Regions from separate parts of the Homo sapiens genome. Here regions 2 and 3 are each linked to region 1. A link means that fine-mapping ties the variant in region 1 to the plasma level of a protein whose gene starts in the linked region. Region 1 holds a variant in brackets. A gene starts in each other region. All regions are shown on their reverse strands. Distances are from middle to middle.

The links. PIP is the chance, under the fine-mapping model, that this variant and not a neighbour inherited with it causes the effect. Protein levels are from antibody-based Olink assays in UK Biobank. Linkage for the fine-mapping came from a reference panel and not from the study's own genotypes, which makes the PIPs less certain.
Region 2: IL12B starts here. The variant in region 1 is fine-mapped to the plasma level of the IL12B protein (UK Biobank, PIP above 0.99).
Region 3: IL12A starts here. The variant in region 1 is fine-mapped to the plasma level of the IL12A protein (UK Biobank, PIP above 0.99).

What each region holds. Positions count from the first base shown.
Region 1 is chr3:188,414,263-188,417,114 of GRCh38, reverse strand. The region is part of intron 4 of LPP (LIM domain containing preferred translocation partner in lipoma); the gene reads right to left. Among named protein-coding and RNA genes, the nearest start is that of LPP-AS1, 150 kb to the left of the region's middle. The variant A/G (reference allele first, on the strand shown) is at 1,423.
Region 2 is chr5:159,328,793-159,331,644 of GRCh38, reverse strand. IL12B (interleukin 12B) reads left to right here and starts at 1,158. Exons shown (of 8, transcript NM_002187.3): 1 at 1,158-1,213. IL12B-AS1 (IL12B antisense RNA 1) reads right to left here and starts at 127. Exons shown (of 5, transcript NR_037889.1): 1 at 1-127.
Region 3 is chr3:159,987,590-159,990,089 of GRCh38, reverse strand. It overlaps IL12A (interleukin 12A), which reads right to left and starts at 1,255. Exons shown (of 7, transcript NM_001397992.1): 1 at 916-1,255. The coding sequence starts at 931. It overlaps IL12A-AS1 (IL12A antisense RNA 1), which reads left to right. Exons shown (of 10, transcript NR_108088.1): 9 at 797-993. RefSeq lists enhancers at 995-1,044, 544-1,044, 1,045-1,545, 2,397-2,500 and silencers at 1,165-1,214, 1,285-1,484.

The sequences.
Region 1 (2,852 bases):
CAATGACCTATACTCCTCTGCCCCAGGTGCTGTCCTCAGCCATCAGGTCTCTCTGAATGCAGTAATTTTAAGAAAGGATGATAAAAATATCATACTGATTTTTTTTAAGTTCTTTAGGTTAATCGTTATTCTAGGGTATGATTTCTTTATATGGTATATTTGCCCAAAGGCTCAGGTGTCAGATTTATTTTTATAATGTCCATAATGAATCCATTTTTAGATAATTTACATAGGCCTACTGTGACCCAAAATTGGCTGAGATTTCAGGCATTGCTACCCAAAGCAACACAATAGCAAGAGCTCTGTAATGCAGAAGCTTGTCCATGGCTAGGGCATTCTCGAAGAATCCATTTTTTTGTTGTTGTTTGAAATTTTCTGGTTTTGGATCCCAAATAAAATGACCCAGGACAACATATGCAAACGATTGGTGTCTATAATGAAAGCACTGAGGGAAAAGAATAGCAACATGAAAGATGCTCTAGGTCTCTGAATCTGTACAATGTTCACAAGATAAAGACTCTCAAGACTTCAAAAGCTACCATCATTAACTACGGGAGGAAGAGTACACTCTCAGGACTTGGAGAAGGTTCAAAGGAGATTAAGGCACTGGTCCCTGAAGTTAATGAAATAAATGAGTGGTTCCCAAACGTTGGTTGAGCATCAATCACAATTCCCGGGAAGTTCTGTTTTATTTTTTATTTTGCTTTGTTTTAATGCAGATTCCTGGGCCCCATGGCCAGATATTTTGATTCTGTAAAATTGTGATGGGACCTAGGACTTGCTTTAATTTTTTTCTTTTGAAAAATGTTCTCCAAGTCTTTCTGATGACTGGCCAGCTTTGAAAACCACAGGTTTAAGCCATACATTTTGGCAGGGATACATATAGCAGTGATCTTTCAAAGTATCATGCAAGCAATTCAGATGGCATGTAAGATAGCACTTTGAGTAAGAGAAGAATACATTAAGATATCTATATGCATTCCTTTATTTTACTATTATTAATTTTTTTTTAAATATGGACTCATAGAAAGTTGCAAAAATAGTACAGAGTTTCCATGTACATTTTACCCAGGTTCCCTAAATGGTAATGCTCATAAAGCTGTAATACATTCGAAAACCCAGCAAACTGACATTGTTACCTTATTGTTAACTAGGAGTTACTCAGTTTTTACCATTTTATAACCTGCATTGATTTGTGTGTGCATACAGTTCTATGTAACTTTATCCCATGTATAGATTCATGTAATCATCACTCCAATTGAGGTACAGATCTGTTCCACCCATACAAAGACTCTTGCTGCGTCCTCTTTGTAGGAATGACCAGTACTTGCCCCCCCCCGACCCACCCATTTCTGTCCCCTAGCAATCATGAATATGTCCTTTATCTCTAGAGCTTTGTCTTAAAATGAAATCATATAATAC[A/G]TGTAACCTTTCGAGACAGTTTTTTCATTAAGCATGTCCAGGTTATTGCATATACCAACAATACTTCATTCTTTTTTACTGCTGAATGGTATTATTCCATTGTATGGCTGTACCAGACTTCACTGAAACATCTGCCCATCAAAGGATATTTGGGTTGTTTCCAGTGTTTTGTCATTATGATAAAAAAAAAAAAGTTGCTATGAACATCCATGTACAGGTTTTTTCGTGAACATAACATTTTGATTCTCTGGATTAAATGCCAAAGGGTATATTTGCTGAGTCATATGGTTAGTACATGTTTACTTTTGTAAAATACCGCCAAAGAGTTTTCCATCGTGGCTACAAAATTTTGCACATGCCTACCAGCATTGTGAGAGATCATTTCTCCACATCCTTAGCAGCATCTGGTACAAATTTTTATTTTAGCTTTTCTAATACATGTGTGGTGATATCTCTTTGTGGCTCTCTGTTTATTTTTATTATCAAAAAAGCAATTAAATTCTCTTCAGATGTAAAATACGGAGGGACAATAGTATTGTATATTTGTATAATTCAAAAATAAAGATGATTAATATGTATCTCACCACACAAATCAGCATTAATTATTGTTTTTGAACCATACAAGAATTAGGAGGCACCCATCACCTTATTAAGGAACTCATTTCAGTAGTTAATTAAGCTGACAAGTTACAAAATAAAAGAGATTTCTGTCAACAATACAGGGACTTCTCCTTGTTCTAAAACATCCAATCCACTTTGTTCGGGTATATTAGTTCAATCACTGTAACTTCTAAACAAGTCCCCCAAAACGTGTCTATGGCAACCAGAGAAGGAATCCCCAGGATCATGGCTTGGCTTCCCCACTTACTAATCTGCAATACTGAACAAGCCACCTGCCTCTCTGAGTCTCTGAAATGAAGATTAAATTGTTGCCTGCATTCAAGAATTTTCATTGGTTATTTACAGCACTCCTGGGCAAAGAACCTGTACTTCGCTGAAATGTATTAGTGAATACATTCTCAACTATTCTCATCTAGGAAAGAAAGGGGTTGTATTAGATAACTTTTAAGATTCACCCTGGTTCTAGAATTTTACAGTTTATATAGTGTTGAGGCATTGTGATCTCTATCACTGTTGTTAGAAGCTAATGACATGAGTACTTATGGATAACATGCTAAATTATTATTATACTTATATTATCACATATTCATTACTACAGACTAAGTATCGCATATACAAAACATCTGGGACATGAAGTGTTTCAAATTTCAGATTTTTTGGATTTTTGGAATATTTACACATACCAGCTAAGCAACCCTAATCCACAATACTGAAATCCAAAATGTTCCTGTGAGCATTTCCTTTGAGCATTGTGTTAGCACTCAGAAAGTTTCAGATTTTTTCACATTTAAGATTTCAGATTTTTGGAT
Region 2 (2,852 bases), not on the chromosome of region 1:
CGAGAGCAGGGATGGAGAAGTGGACCTGCGCGGGTGGACTCCGGGGCGCGGGTGGACTCCGGGGCGCGGGGGGACTCCGAGGAGCGGGTGGACTGTGGGGCGCGGGTACCGTCTCGCAGCGACCTCTGTCGGCGGCTCTGGGGATGGCCCGCATCTGTCTGCGTGTACCTGGTATACGTGCAGGTACATGTTCCTGTTCACGTGCAGACTGGGCGGGGGATGGGGGGGTCCACACCGGTGTACACCTTTGCATACCTCTTAGCAACTTGAAATTCCACCACGAGAGATATCTTTATTCCGCTATTCCTGTGCATCTGCACGGAGCCCCTAGGGCCATAGATTTGTGTGCAAATGAAATGAGGATGTAGTCTGGGTGCCCAAGGGGGGGTGCCTTGAGTGTGGTTGTCTGTATGCCTCCCTGAGGGTATTTCACTTTCTGCTCCCATCCGCCCCTATGAGCGAGTACCTATGAGCACAGGATGTGCACATATTTGAGTCTTATTAGTGGTACACGCAGTTTTATCATCTCCCCAGGTCTGTGTCTGTATGAAATGTGCATGGGTGTGTGTGTGCACGCGTGTGTTCCCACTCGGGGAATGTGGGGAGAGGTGCATGGAGCCAAGATGGGTGGTAAATAGTATGTTTCTGAAATTAAAGGACTAATGTGGAGGAAGGCGCCCCAGATGTACTAAACCCTTTGCCCTTCATCTCATCCTCTCTGACTTGGGAAGAACCAGGATTTTGTTTTTAAGCCCTTGGGCATACAGTTGTTCCATCCCGACATGAACTCAGCCTCCCGTCTGACCGCCCCTTGGCCTTCCTTCTTCCTCGATCTGTGGAACCCAGGGAATCTGCCTAGTGCTGTCTCCAAGCACCTTGGCCATGATGTAAACCCAGAGAAATTAGCATCTCCATCTCCTTCCTTATTCCCCACCCAAAAGTCATTTCCTCTTAGTTCATTACCTGGGATTTTGATGTCTATGTTCCCTCCTCGTTATTGATACACACACAGAGAGAGACAAACAAAAAAGGAACTTCTTGAAATTCCCCCAGAAGGTTTTGAGAGTTGTTTTCAATGTTGCAACAAGTCAGTTTCTAGTTTAAGTTTCCATCAGAAAGGAGTAGAGTATATAAGTTCCAGTACCAGCAACAGCAGCAGAAGAAACAACATCTGTTTCAGGGCCATTGGACTCTCCGTCCTGCCCAGAGCAAGGTAAGCACTTCCCAAGCCCCTACCTCCCTCCCCTCCCTGTGGGCCTGCAGCTGTCCAGGTGTAGAAACCGTTAGTGTGCTACCCCAGCAGCTGGCAGGAGGGAGTTGGTGGATTCCTGGAAGCATCCCTGGTGAGTCATCTGCTGGAACATTAGTGAAAACTTAGTACTCTAGGGACCGATGTACAGTGTCCATTTTAAAAGCCACCTAATAATAACTGTATAGCAAGATCTGTGTGTATGCATAGTTTGTGGAAATGTTTGTTTTATCTTATTTTGAAGTGGTGTGTATTGATGTATAAAAGTATATTCCTAAATGTTAATGCCCATCAGTTAAAGGATTGTATAGAGCTAAAGTGAGTGGTGCCTGCCTTACTATTGAAATTTTTAAAAAGCCTTTCGTGCATTCCTTAAAGTAATTGGATTCATAATTATAATAATGTTACAAATCAGACTTGCTCCCATATTTGTGATGGTCTTGGTCGTCAGTTGTGATATCAACCAAAATGACAGCTGGGATCCCCATTCTTGTGGATTAACTAACTTTGGCCCCAGTTAAAAAATGAAAAGCTATTATTGCTTCCTAAAGAGTTTTTAAATCTGTGAGAAGGGGGAAAAAAAGGTTTTTTTACTTGCCCAGGTAAAATTGTGTGCAACAACAATGTCATTTTAACAAAGGGATTACTAAACCCCAGGTGATGACCCACTTTTTCAAACAAGGAATTGCAAGATACTAGATGGAATGTGGGTAACCTCTTAGAGTTTAGTTTACTGGAATCTGAAATTGTATGATTTCCGTACATTCCTTCATGCTACTAATAAGTCATGGAATCCCTCTGTGCTGGACTCTGGGGGTAAAGTGCAAAACAAGATAGACATGATCCATGGCATAAGAGAGTTCACTCAGTGTGGCAGAGAAGACAAACAGTAAAGAAGAGACTGTATTGTTGCCATTGTAGTAAATGCTGTGGAAGGAGGGGAGCAAATAGTGGGTCCTGACTTCATCTAGGCACCATGACACTTCACGTGAATTATGTCACTAACTCCTTACCACAGTAGCATGCCCATTTTATAGATCAGGAGTGTGGGGCTTAAAGGGGCCAAGTGACTCACCCAGAGTCACACAGTTCTAGAAGTCTGCCTGGCCCTCAAACTAGGGATCTTTGCATGTGCCACCCATGCCATCTGTGACTATATCTTTTTATTCTTTAATAATAACTCCCTTTTCTAATTAAAGGTAACAAACAAAACTTAAAAAAGAGATGCCCACCCAAGCGTCATTGGCATGCTGATGTTGGCACCAGTGTTGGGAAGCCCTTAGCATACTCCAGGAAGTAGGAGTGTGTAACGTGGGGTCCCTTTGTCCTTCATGCAAGGGTTTCAAGAGTTTAGAAAACCTATGAAATTGCACACACAAAAATGTGTTTTAATCATCAAGACTCTCAGACTTACCATGCTGAGAAATGTGGGCTGAGGGATAGCGCTCCCTAGTATCAGCTGATGGGCCAGAGAGCCAAAGGAGGAGACCCACCACCATCACCTCTCCTGGACAGTGCTCTGTGGTTTCAAATGTAGGTGATACTAAAATGGGAGTTGCTTCTTAGAACCATGGCCGGGGTTCCCTTGACCCTGAAGTGCAGT
Region 3 (2,500 bases), 28 Mb after region 1:
CTTCACCCATCCATTCATGCTTGGCACCCACCTCCCTCAACCCATTTCCAACACTTTTCCTTCAACACCTGAGAGATGACTCGAGTTATTACAAAGCGCCACTCTATTCTAGGGCTAGAAGCCAGCTCCCTGTGAGGGTCTAGAGATGAGCTTGGACAAGGGTGTTGAACCCAACACTCACCCAGAGAAAGCCTACATGTTTTTGATCAGGGAAACCCAGACCAGGTGGTGAAGTGGCTGAGTCAGACTTGGGACCCAGTGTTTTAAAAACAGTGGAGTGAGAAAGCCTGACTTTTTTTGTTTTTTTAAGACGGAGTCTCACTCTGTGGCCCAGACTGGAGTGCAGTGGCACGATTTTGGCTCACTGCAACCTCCACCTCCGAGTTCAAGCAATTTTCCCTGCCTTAGACTCCCGAGTAGATGGGATTACAGGCACCCACCACCACACTCGGCTAATTTGTGTATTTGTTAGTAGAGACGGGGTTTCACCATGTTGGTCAGGCTGGTCTTGAACTCCTGACCTCAGGAGATCTGTCCGCCTTGGCCTCCCAAAGTGCTGGGATTACAGGCGTGAGCCATTGCACCCGGCCAAGCCTGACTTTAGAACTGGCTAGGATCTGCCTTCTGTTTGTAGCTGAGGGACCCTAGGCAGGAAAGCAGGAAATCTCCCACGCTGGGCCTCAGTTTCTCCTCTACGAAGTGGGCATAATGATAGCTCATCAGGCTGTTTCGAGATGAAAAGAGACATGCCCTATTTAGCACACGGTGAGACCCCTATTCTTATTCCTCTTTGCAGGAGACGGCTGCTGCTGTTCCAGTCTCTCCTTAGGCAGACTTGAGTTTCTACCCACTCTTCCCAAGCAGCCGCCCCTCCGCACCCGAGCGAGCCAAAGACCTGGCGGGCTGAGTACTCACTGCGCGCTGGACACATGCTGAGCCGGCACTGCAGGGACACAGGGCGAGCCGCTGGATGCAGACCTGTGGCCGCGGCAGGTGAGGGCGGTGGCTGGGAGGCTGACCCAGGGGGCCACATTTTTATAATTGTCCCGAGGCGCGGCAGGACTTTCCCGGGACTCTGGTCTCTTGCTTTCTGTCTCCTTCTGTGTCTCTCTCTACATCAGCTTCTCGGTGACACGTGCGGTGCGGCCGGCCCGCGGGGCTTGCGGCGCTTTCGGATTAACTCCCGGGGTGCCCGGCCGCAGCCGTTCCGGGACGGCCCCGCCGCCTCCAGCTCGGCCCAAAATGAAAGCGAAATGTTCGCAGTTACTGCGCGGGGTCCACAGGCGGGCGGGACACCCCGCCCACCACCCTGGGTCCCCGGCCTTAGCCGGACGCCCCGTGTCTAAGCTACCCCGCCCCGCAGCTGTGCAGCGCCCCCTGCCGACGTAGAGAGAGGAGTGCCTCCCACTTTGCATGTCCTGCGTAGGGATGGGCCCTAACCACGACCTCCAGCCTAGTACTGGAAGGGGTAGGCAAATCATTCACTCATCATCGTTCCTTTAGATGGCTCACTAGATGCCAGGCCGACGTTGCACCAGGTGCAGGACACCCAGGGAGAACAGGACCCTTGGGGCATTGCCACACTAAATCAGACTCAAGGCGTTTTGTTCACAGGTCTTTTCTGAAACCTGAAAAGGGATGAGAGCTGGCTGACTCTGCAATTATTACTCTTGTAGAGAATCCAGTTTAACGATAGGATGAATACACAGAGTCCTGGGAGGAAAGACCTAGAGAAAGAGCCCACGCTCAGCCGGAGCAACGGGGTCCAGGAGTCAGCAAAGGCTCCCGGGAGCAGGCAGGGGCCCCAACCTGAGTGTTAAAAACAAGCAGGCATTAGACCGCTTCCAGCGGGAGGGCACGCAGGGTCTAGCCAGGGGAAACAGGGATCAGAAGCGCAGTCATGAAGGGTTGAGGGAGGTGGGGGTCTAGGTGTCCTTGCAGGGTGTGAGGCTGGAGGGCTGGATGGGGCCATGCCATGAGGGCAGGGGATGCCATACTAAGGAGTGTACTTTCTGTGCTGAGAGTAGTGGGGAGTCTTCCTGGGTTTTAGGCGGGAGATGTGGCAGAATTTGCATGATGGGGGGATCCCTTCAGCCACAGCATGAAGGATGGATCCAGGGGTCAGGAGTAGAGCAGAGGGAAGAGTTGACAAGGTGTGGCCAAGTCCTTATTCAGTATGGAGAACACAGGGTGGGCAGGAGGGACTCTCAGAGGGCTTGTGGGCCAAGGCTTGGTAGCTCCTCAGGTGAGCGGGAGAGGAAGGCCCTGAGAATGGGGAATGGAGATTGTTCTAGCTTTACAGGGATTACTGTATAAGAGGACTGAGTTTGGAGGAGATGGTGAGAAGTTCCATTTTGGATGTGCTGGGTTTGAGGTTCCTGTGGGACTTTTTAGTTCAGTTGTTTTTCCCACAGGCATTAGTCACCCTAGGCGTGGGTAGTGGGGAGGATGTGTTTGATCTCTGACTTGGAGCTTCCAAAGGGCCTGACTACACCCAGGC